Linked DNA regions of Homo sapiens: region 1 is linked to region 2. Evidence: fine-mapped expression QTL. A gene starts in region 2. The other region holds a variant in brackets. All regions are shown on one strand. Distances are between the middles of the regions. Region 1 overlaps SUGP1 (SURP and G-patch domain containing 1). Region 2 holds the start of TSSK6 (testis specific serine kinase 6).

Region 1 (5,369 bases), 220 kb before region 2:
CACTACAGCCTGGGCAATAGAGTGAAACTGTCTCAAAAATAAAGAGGCAGGGTCTGTCTGGTTGCTCTGTTTGGACCCTCTGTCATCTAGGCTGGAGTGCAGTGCCACGATCATAGCTCACTGCAGCCTCAAATTCCTGGACTCGTGTTCCTCCTGCCTCTCAGCCTCTTGAGTAGCTAGAGCTATAGATGCACACCACACAGCCTGGCTAATTTTTCCTATGATTTTCTTAGTAATATTTTCTTTCTTCTAGCTTATTTTATTATAAGAATATAGTACATAATACATATAACATATAAAAAGCATGTTAATCAACTGTTTATGTTACCAATAAGGCTTCCGGTCAACAGTAGGCTATTAGTAGTTAAGTTTTTGGGGAGTCAAAAGTTACATGTAGAGGCTGAGGTGGGCAGACCACTTGAGCTCAGTTTTGAAACCAGCCTGGGCAATGTGGTGAAACCCTGTCTCTACAAAAAATTAAAGAATTAGCCAGGCGTGCTGGTACAGGGCTATAGTCCCAAGCTACTTGGGAGCCTAAGGTGGAAGGATAGCTTGAGCTCAAGAGGTTGAGGCTGCAGTGAGCTGTGATTATACCACTGCACTCCAGCCTGGGAAACAGAGTGAGACCCTGCCTCAAAAAAAAAGTTTATATTCAGATTTTCTCTTTTTTTTTCTTTTTTTGTGAGACGGAGTCTTGCTCTGTTACCTGGGCTGGAGTGCAGTGGCGCGATCTCAGCTCACTGCAACCTCCACCTCCCGAGTTCAAGCGATTCTCCTGCCTCAGCCTCCTGAGTAGCTGGGATTACAGGCATGTGCCACCATGCCCGGCTAATTTTTGTATTTTTAGTAGAGACAGAGTTTCACCATGTTGGTCAGGCTGGTCTCGGACTCCTGACCTTGTGATCTGTCCACCTCAGCCTTCCAAAGTGCTGGGATTACAGGTGTGAGCCACCAAACCCGGCCTATATTCAGATTTTCAACTGCACAGGGCTTGGTGTCCCAACCCCCATGTTGTTCAAGGGACAGCTGTATACCCCGTTGCTCCCAGGCTACAAACCTGTAAAGTAACACAGTAAGTATTTATGTATCTAAACATAAAAAAGGTACAGTAAAAATACTGTACTATAATCTTATAACAATTTTAATAATGACCACTGTCATATATGCAGTCCATCACTGACCAAAATGGTGTCATACAGGGCCGGGCATGGTGGCTCACACCTGTAATCCCAGCACTTTGGGAGGCCGAGGCGGGGAGATTACTTGAGGTCAGGAGTTTGAGACCAGCCTAGCCTGCATGGTGAAATCCCATTTCTACTAAAAATACAAAAATTAGCTGGGCGTGGGCTGGGCATGGTGGCTCACGCCTGTAATCCTAGCACTTTGGGAGGCTGAGGCAGGTGGATCATCTGAGGTCAGGAGTTCAAGATCAGTCTGGCCAACTTGGTGAAACCTCGTCTCTACTAAAACCAAAAAAATTAGCAGGGTGTGGTTGCAGGCGCCTGTAGTCCCAGCTACTCGGGAGACTGAGGCAGGAGGATCGCTTGAACCTGGGAGGTAGAGGTTGCAATGAGCCGAGATAGTGCCACAGCACTCCAGCCTGGGCGACAGAGGGAGACTCTGCCTCAAAAAAAACAAAAAACAAAAAACAATAACAAAAACAAAAAAGAATGAATGAAGAAAGAGGTTCCGGACAGCAGAACTCATGGAGGTTCCTGGAGGGTGGCGTGCCCAGGGAGGGCATGGAAGCTCCACGCCCCTTCCCCCATACGTCGCCCTATGTGACTCTTCATCTGAAAAAATCCCTCAAGTCAAGAATACAAGGAACTAAGAGGGAGTTAGGAAGAATATAAGGGCCATGTACTCGGCCCCCAACCCCTAATCTCGGTGGGTGTGGGTGATAGGAAATTTATGTCTGGAGATCTAAGAGCAACATGAACTTCTGCTCTGCTTCTCTTCTAGAATTTTAAGAAGGTGGTAGACTGGCAGATGTGACCCGCCATCACACAAGAAGAATGGAAGAGATGGTGGCACACTGAGACTAGTTGGAGACCCCTAGGAAATTACCCTTCAGTTTCCTGTGGCTCCCAAGTGATGGAGGAAGGCTGAAAGTTCTTGCGGGCAAGGAGAGAGGGAAGGAGCAGAAACTGGTTATGGTACATAAATCTATACAAGGAGAACTGAGTGTGCTTGTGTTATTATTTTTAATGTTTAGATAATCAATGTACAAACATTCTTGCTAAGTCAGGCACGGTGGCTCACACCTGTAATCCCAGCACTTGGGAGGCGGAAGCAAGTGGATCATCTGAGGCCAG[G/A]AGTGCGAGACCAGCCTGGCCAACGTGGCAAAACCCCGTCTCTACTAAAAATATAAAAATTAGCCGGGCATGGTGGTGGGCACCTATAATCCCAGCTACTCGGGAGGCTGAGGCAGGAGAATCACTTGAACCTGGTAGGCAGAGGTTGCAGTAAGCCAAGATTGTGCCACTGCACTCCAGCCCGGATAAAAGAGCAAGACTCTGTCTCAAAGGGAAAAAACAAAAAACAAAAAAAACTCTTTGCTATATATACACAGTTTTGTTATTTTTATTTTTAAGGAAAACTGTATTTCTGAAAGTAGGGTTTGAAGAGAAGTTTATTATAGATTACTGACAAAGCTAATCTATCAGTTAATATATATAACAATCATTTATTTATTTATTTATTTTTAAAAGAAAGAGGCTGGGTGTGGTGGCTCACGCCAGTAATCCCAGCACTTTGGGAGGCTGAGGTGGGCGGATCACAAGGTCAGGAGCTCGAGACCAGCCTGGCCAACATGGTGAAACCCCGTCTCTACTAAAAATACAAAAATTAGCTGGGCGTGGGGGCGCCCACCTGTAATCCCAGCTACTCGGGAGGCTGGGGCAGGAGAATTGCTTGAACCCGGGAGGTAGAGGTTGCAGTGAGACAAGATCATGCCACTGCACTCCAGCCTGGGTGACAGAGTGAGACTCCATCTCAAAAACAAACAAACAAAAAAATAAGAAAGAAAGAAGATCTAAAACCAATAACCTAAGCGTACACCTTAGTGAGCTAGAAAAAGAAGATCAAACTAAATCCAAAGCTAACAGAAGAAAATAGTAAAGTTTAGAGTGGAGATAAGAAAATGAGGACTATAAATACAATGGAGAAAAATCTATGAAACCACAAGTTGGTTCTTTGAAAAGATCAACAAAAGTGACAAACCTTTTAGTTAAACTAAGAAAAAAATGAGAGAAGACTCAATTACTAAAATCAGAAATGAAGGAGGGGCTGTAACTAACGACTGAAAATAAGACATAAGTTAAAAGGACCATAAGAAAATACAATAAACTGTGCCCCAACAAATTAGATAGATGAAGTGAACAAATTCCTAGAAACACAAACCATCAAAACACAAGAAGAAATAGAAAATCTGAATAGACAAGTAAATCAGGATTCGAAAAAACCTTCCAACAAAAAAAGGCCAAGAGGCTGGGCACGGTGGCTCACACCTGTAATCCCAGCAATTTGGGAGGCCGAAGCGGGTGGATCACGAGGTCAGGAGTTCAAGACCATCCTGGCTAACACAGTGAAACCCCGTCTCTACTAAAAAAAAAATACAAAAAATTAGCCAGGCTTGGTGGCGGCGCCTGTAGTCCTAGCTACTCAGGAGGCTGAGGCAGAAGAATGGCGTGAACCTGGGAGGCGGAGCTTGCAGTGAGCCGAGATCACGCCACTGCACTCCAGCCTGGGTGACAGAGTGAGACTCTGTCACACACACACACACACACACACACACACACACACACACACACAAAAGGGCCAAGAATTAGATAGCTTCACTGGTAAAGCAAACATTTAAAAGAAGAAATAAGCCGCGTGCAGTGATTCATGCCTGTAATCCCAGTGCTTTGGGAGGCTGAGGTGGGCAGATCACTTGAGGTCAAGCATTCAAGACCAGCCTGGCCAACATGGCAAAACCCCATCTCTACTAATAATACAAAAATTAGCCAGGTATGGTGGCAGGTGCCTGTAATCCCAGCTACTCGGGAGGCTGACGTAGGAGAATTGCTTGAACCTGGGAGGTGGAGGTTGCAGGGAGCCGAGATTGCACGACTGCACTCCAGCCAGGGTGACAGAGTGAGACTCCGTCTCAAAAAAAAAAAAAAAAAAGAAAGAATACCAATTCTCCTCAAACTCTTCCAAAAACACAAAAGAGAGAACATTTCTAAACTTACTCTATGGGGCTAGGATTAGCCTGATACCCAAGGCAGACAAAGATACTACAAAGAAAGAAAAATAGGCCAGGTGTGGTGGCTCACGCCTGTAATCCCAGAACTTTAGGAGGCCAACATGGGCAGATCACTTGAGGCCAGGAGTTCAAGACCAGCCTGGCCAACATGGTGAAACCCTGTCTCTACTAAAAATACAAAAATTAGCCGGGTGTGGTGGTGGAAGAATTGCTTGAACCCAGGAGGTGGAGATTGCAGTAAGCTGAGATCGCGCTACTGCACTCCAGCCTGGGCAACAAAGAGCAAAACTCCATTTCAAAAAAAAAGAAAAAGAAAGAAAGAAAAATACAATTGAATATTCCTATGAATACAGATGGAGAAATCCTCAATAAAATACTAGGAAACCAAATTCAGCAGCTTATGAAAGGATTATACACCATGACCAAGTGGGATTTATCCCCGCAATGCAAGGATGGCTCAACATTTGAAAATCAATCCATGTAATACACCAAATTAATAGAATGAAGGAAAGTAACCACACGATGATTTTATGTATTTATTTACTTTTTTTTTTTGAGACTCAGTCTCACTCTGTTGCCCAGGCTGGAGTGCAGTTGCTCAATCTCGGCTCACTGCAACCTCTGCCTCCCAGGTTCAAGAGATTCTCCTGCTTCAGCCTCCCAAGTAGCTGGGATTACAGGCGTGTGCCACCACACCCAGCTAATTTTTGAATTTTTTTTGGTAGAGACGGGGTTTCACCATGTTGGCCAGGCTGGTCTTGAATTCCCGGCCTCAAGTAATCTGCCCACCTCAGTCTCCCAAAGTGCTGGGATTACAGGCGTGAGTCACCGTGCCTGGCCTGTTTTAACTGATGCAGAAAAAGCATCTGACAAAAACTAAAACATTTTCATGATAAAAACGCTCAATAAACTAGGAACAGAAGTGAACTTCCAGACAGGCCTGGTGGCTCACGCCTGTAATCCCAGCACTTTGGGAGGCCAAGGCAGGCGGATCACCCGAGGTCAGGAGTTCGAGACCAGCCTGGCCAACATGGTGAAACCCTGTCTCTACCAAAAACACAAAAATTGGCCAGTCGTGGTGGTGGGCACCTGTAGTCCCAGGTACTAGGGAGGCTGAGGC
Region 2 (5,369 bases):
TTGTTTGTTTTTTGAGACGGAGTTTCGCTCTTGTTGCCCACGGTGGACTGCAGTGACACGATCTCGGCTCACTGCAACCTCCCCCTCCCGGGTTCAAGCGATTCTTCCGCCTCAGCCTCCGAGTAGCTGAGATTACAGGCGCCCGCCCCCGTGCCCAGCTAAATTTTTTTTGTATTTTTAGTAGAGACGGGGTTTCACTATATTGGCCAGGCTGGTCTCGAACTCCTGACCTCAGGTGATCCACCCGCCTTGGCCTCCCGAAGTGCTGGGATTACAGGCGTGAGCACCGCGCCCGGGGTTTTTCTTTTTCTTTCTTTTTTCTTTTCCTTTTTTTTTTTTTTTTTTTTTTTTAAGAGGCAGGGTCCAGGGCGCGTTGGCTCACGCCTGTAATCCCAACACTTTGAGAGGCCGAGGCGGGTGGATCACGAAGTCAGGAGTTCAAGACCAGCCTGGCCAAGATGGTGAAACCCCGTCTCTACTAAAAATACAAAAATTAGCCGGGTGGGGGGACACGCGCCTGTAGTCCCAGCTACTTGGGAGGCTAAGGCGGGAGAATCGCTTGAACCCGGGAGGCGGAGGTTGCAGTGAGCCGAGATCGTGCCACTGCACTCCAGCTTGGGCGACAGAGCGAGACTCTGTCTCAAAAAACAAACAAACAAACAAACAAACAAACAAGAGATGAGGTCTCGGCTGTGATGCCCAGGCTGTTTTCGAACTCCTGACCTCAAGATATCTGCCCGCTTCGGACTCGCAGTGTTGGGGTTACAGGCGTGAGCCACCGCGCCTGGCCCTTGGCTCTGCCTTTTGGCAAGTGACATCCATGTGGGCCTCAGTTTCCTTATCTATAAACTCCTACTTTACGTGGAGACAGGCCACCCTCGCCCCACCCCTGGCTGTTCCATTCTTAAAAGATGTGGACGGCGAGGCGCTGGGGTCCACTTGCTTCCCAGCCCATCATCACAGCGACATCACGACCCGGGGACAACAAAGCTCCTTTGAGTTTGCCCATACTGGGGAGCTCAAAAGGTCCAGGCTCGAATCCTCCCGACTCCCTTTTGAGTCTTGGAGCAATAACCTCAACATGCGTGACTCTAAAATAGGGTACCCGCGCCTGCCTTCCCCGGATGGAGCGATCGCTTCTCCACTAGTCCGCAAATGGGGGCCACCGTTAGAGCCAGGTGCGAGGAACAGCGAGTTTATTGCAGGTTCCAACCGGGAACCTGGCACCCACGGCTGGTTGGGAAGGGACGCCCTCCGCGCAGAGGCTGAGAGTTCCGCGCAGGCGCAATGCTTCCGTCCCCTCTGGTCTCGCCCTCTCGGGGCCTGGTCGCAGGGAATCGCGGATGCGCATGCGCCTCCAGCTCCCGGGATCGCGGGGAACGTGGATTCCGAACAAGGGCAACTGCGGACTCCCCCGTGGGAAGAAAGGGAGGGAAGCGGAAGGGAAAAAGCGCATGTGCAGCAGCACGCGGCAGCTTCGCATATTCCCTCGAAGCGCGCCTCTTGCGCGTGCGCCGCCCTGGCCCAGTGCCCTTGGCTGCAGGAATGGCTGGAACCACCCGGCTTCTAGCCGGAGTCCCCGGCGCGCAGCCAGCAGTTGCGCGCTACCTGGCCCGCGGAGGGCCTGGCGGACGGGCTGAACTGCAGCAGCTCGGCGATCAGGGCCTTGCAGCGCTCGGACAGCTCGAGGCCTTCGGGATAGAGCACGCCGCGTTTCTGGCGCCGGGGCAGGCCGGCGATGTCCGAGTCGTCGAAGGGCATGCACCCGGTGACCATGACGTAGAGCACGACGCCCATGCTCCACACATCGTACTTCTTGGGGTCGTAGGGGATGCCCAGGAGCACCTCGGGTGACGCGTAGGCGGCTGAGCCGCAGTAGGTGGTGCTCAGGTCTGGGTAGCCATGGGCCTGGCGGCCGAAGCCGAAGTCGGTGAGCTTGACGCGGCGCTCGTCCGGGCTCAGCAGCACGTTTTCGCACTTGAGGTCGCGGTGCACCAGGTGATGATCGTGCAGGTAGCGCACGGCGCCGGCGATCTGCGCAAAGAGGTCGCGCGCCTGAACTCCGGGGATGCGCCCGTTGCGCTGCACGGCTTGCAGCAGGTCGGTGGCGGCCGCTTCCATCACGATGTACAGTTTCCCGTTGCACACCTCGATGAACTCGAAGACGTGCACGATGTGCGGGTGTCGCACGCCCCGCAGGATGGACAGCTCTCGCGGCAGGAACTTGTTGACGAAGTCCGGGGGCGCTCGCCGCCGGTCCACCACCTTGATGGCCACGGTACCCTTGTACTTCTTGGATGTGGCCACCTTCACCTTGGAGTAGCTGCCCTCTCCAATTGTGCGGCCCAGCTTATAACCGAGTTCGCTCAGAAGTTTGTCTCCCGACATGGTGGCGCCTAGGGCGCACGGGGGGCAGGAGGCGGCTGCTGTCGGGGGGCGGCCGGACTCCAATCTCGGGTCTAAGCCATGGCGCTTGGCACCTACACCCCCGCACCCCCATGTGCCCACTGCCAGACATTGGCCGCTGTTGTGCCTTTTATTGCCCCGTAACAATTTTTGCCTTGTGAAGTGACTGCGGGCGTCACTCCGCCTTAGGGTGGGGGTCCGGGACCCCGCCCCGGGGCCACCCTAGCCTCCCTGCTTTGTGACTCATAATCATCCTGAATGGTCAGTTTCCGATGAGAGGCCACTAGCAAGGGATACCCATCACCACCAGGGAGCAGAATCCGTTCCAGGGATTGGGGTGAGTCCGACTTCGAGCAGCAGCTGCCCCCCAACATCATGTACCCAGCCCGTGACTACGTGGAGCCCTGGGCTTCGCGTAGAGTCCCTAGACGGGGCGAAAACGGGAAAAGGGGCCTTAACTGGGGCACCTGGCTCCTTTGAGAGCTCGGAGTTTCTGACTGGCCTGCGCAACACCCCAGAGGCAAGGTGAACGCGAGGGCCTATAATGCAAGAACCAAGGCGAGTCACGCCCTGTCTGGGCAAAAGAGGAGTAAAGACCCCTCAGCTGCAGCCCGGCAGCGCATTCCTACCCAGGGTCCGCCGCCAGAGCTTTCCCGCGCGGTCGGATAGTTACACTACTGTCCGGGACTTCCTAGCCGTGCCGCGGACCATCTCAAGTGCTTCCGCCACACTCATCATGGCGGTGGCAGTAAGTCACTTCCGCCCGGGACCGGAAGTGTGGGATACTGCGAGTATGGCGGCGTCAAAGGTGAAGCAGGACATGCCTCCGCCGGGGGGCTATGGGCCCATCGACTACAAACGGAACTTGCCGCGTCGAGGACTGTCGGGTCAGTATCACTCTGCGCCGGGGTCTCAGAGTCTGGGCACTCGGGGCTCGGGGGCGGGGTTCCGGGGACACAGGCGGGCCTCAGTTTTCCCGGCGGTGTGACCGGAGGCGGAGCCCGGGGATCCATCATAGCTTCTGTAATAACGCTAAGTGCTGCAGTTTGTTGAGGTCTTTCCCAGCTCCTCTTCCTTCTCGTAACAGCCCAGGAAATCGGTCCCTCTAGTTATTTACGTTTTACAGTGGGTTAAACTGAGTCATAGCCTGTGCTCTGGCCCTCAGCCACCCTTGGATTTCTAAGATGGGGAAACTGAGGCCCAAAGAAGGCCGCGGCTCCCCAAGGCAAAGCTGAGGCCGCAACCCGGAACCTGGAGGGAATTTACAAGATGTTCTATGCAGTGGTTCCCTGCTGGCAGCCCCCGCCTGCATGGTGTCACAGGAATCCATATTCTTTAAATTTTCAATTTTTTTTTTTTGAGACGGAGTTTTGCTCTTGTTGCCCAGGCTGGAGTGCAATGGCGCCATCTCGGCTCACCGCAACCTCCGCCTCCTGGGTTCAAGCGATTCTCTTGCCTCAGCCTCCTGAGTAGCTGGGATTACAGGCATGTGCCACAACGCCTGGCTAACTTTGTGTTTTTAGTAGAGACGGGGTTTCTCCATGTTGGTCAGGGTGGTCTCGAACTCCCAACCTCGGATGATCCGCCCACCTCGGCCTCCCAAAGTGCTGGGATTACAGGCGTGAGCCACCATGCCCGGCGTAAAGTTTTCAAATGTTTAAGTAACACGTTAAATTTTGTTATCGGGCTCAGCACAGAAAATTGAAAAAGAGAACTTAAAAGGCGCCCATACTCAGTCCCCAGGTTAACAGACAAATAGAAACTTTTAAACGTAATCTAAGAGTGAATACATACATTTCTTTTTTTTTTTTTAAGACGGTATGGTTCTGTTGCCTGGGCTGGAGTGATTTCTTGGCAACCTCCGCCTCCTGGGCTCAAGCCATCCTCCCACCCCAGCCTCCTGAGAAGCTGGGATTACAAGCATGCGCCCAGCTTTCTGTATTTTCTATAGAGATGGGATCTCGCCATCTTGCCCAGGCTGGTCTCGAAGTCCTGGGCTCAAGTGATCCACCCACCTCGGCTTCCCAAAGTGATGGGACTATCGGCATGAGCTACCGTGCTCGGCAGAATGCATGTCTCTTAACAAATCAAACTTTACATTTAAATTACATGTTATGCACATTATTCCTCAATTTTAACACACACACAAAAATGAGCATGGTAATTAAAAACGTAATAATTCAGACAGTAGAAAAATCAGTGTGAGGTGAAAAGTCCTCCCCAGCCCCTTCTTGGTTTTTTTATTTTTTATTTCTACTTTTTGTAGAGACAGGGTGCAGCTATGTTGACCAGGCTGGTCTCAAACTCCTGGGCTCAAGTGATCCTCCAGCCTCAGCCTCCCAAAGTGCTGGAATTACAGGCATGAGCCACCGCGGCCAACCTCCTCTTGTTTTTCTTGTATCCCAGAACTGAGATTGGCAGACTTTTTCTATAAAAGGGACAGATGACAAGTATTTTGGGTTTGGCTGGCCAGAAAGTTTCAGTTACTGAGACAACCATTTACAAATGGAAAGTGTTCTTAGCCTGGGGGCTCTACAAAAACAGATTGCCTGTGAGCCAGGTGGCTCATGCCTGTAATCCCCACACTTTGGGAGGCTGAAGCGGGAGGATGGCTTGAGCCCAGGAGTTTGTGACCAGCCTGGGCAACATAGTGAGACCCCCACCTCTACCAAAAATTAAAAAAAAAAAAAAGAGGCTTCAGGCTAGATCTGGCCCATGAGTGCTGTCCCAGAACACATTGGAGGAATATAATGCATTCTATTTCCTCATTTTTCTTTTTTCTTTTCTTTCTTTCTTTTTTATTTTTTGAGACAGAGTCTCATTCTGTCACCCAGGCTAGAGTGCAGTGGCCCGATCTTGGCTCACTGCAACCTCCACCTCCTGGGTTCAAGCAATTCTCCTGTCTCAGCCTCCCGAGTAGCTGGGAGTACAGTTGGATGCCACCACATCCGGCTAATTTTTGT

What was found. PIP is the estimated chance that this variant, and not a neighbour inherited with it, causes the effect. A credible set is the group of variants that fine-mapping cannot tell apart.
Region 1: its variant is the best candidate, but not a certain one, in a credible set for the expression of TSSK6 in whole blood (TOPMed, PIP 0.62).

The regions. Positions count from the first base shown.
Region 1 is chr19:19,288,121-19,293,489 of GRCh38, forward strand. The region is part of intron 8 of SUGP1 (SURP and G-patch domain containing 1); the gene reads right to left. Among named protein-coding and RNA genes, the nearest start is that of TM6SF2, 18 kb to the left of the region's middle. The variant G/A (reference allele first, on the strand shown) is at 2,316.
Region 2 is chr19:19,513,040-19,518,408 of GRCh38, forward strand. TSSK6 (testis specific serine kinase 6) reads right to left here and starts at 2,509. Exons shown (of 1, transcript NM_032037.4): 1 at 1,180-2,509. The coding sequence starts at 2,388. The coding sequence ends at 1,567. NDUFA13 (NADH:ubiquinone oxidoreductase subunit A13) reads left to right here and starts at 3,186. Exons shown (of 5, transcript NM_015965.7): 1 at 3,186-3,293. The coding sequence starts at 3,200. RefSeq lists a silencer at 2,755-2,874 and an enhancer at 3,085-3,364.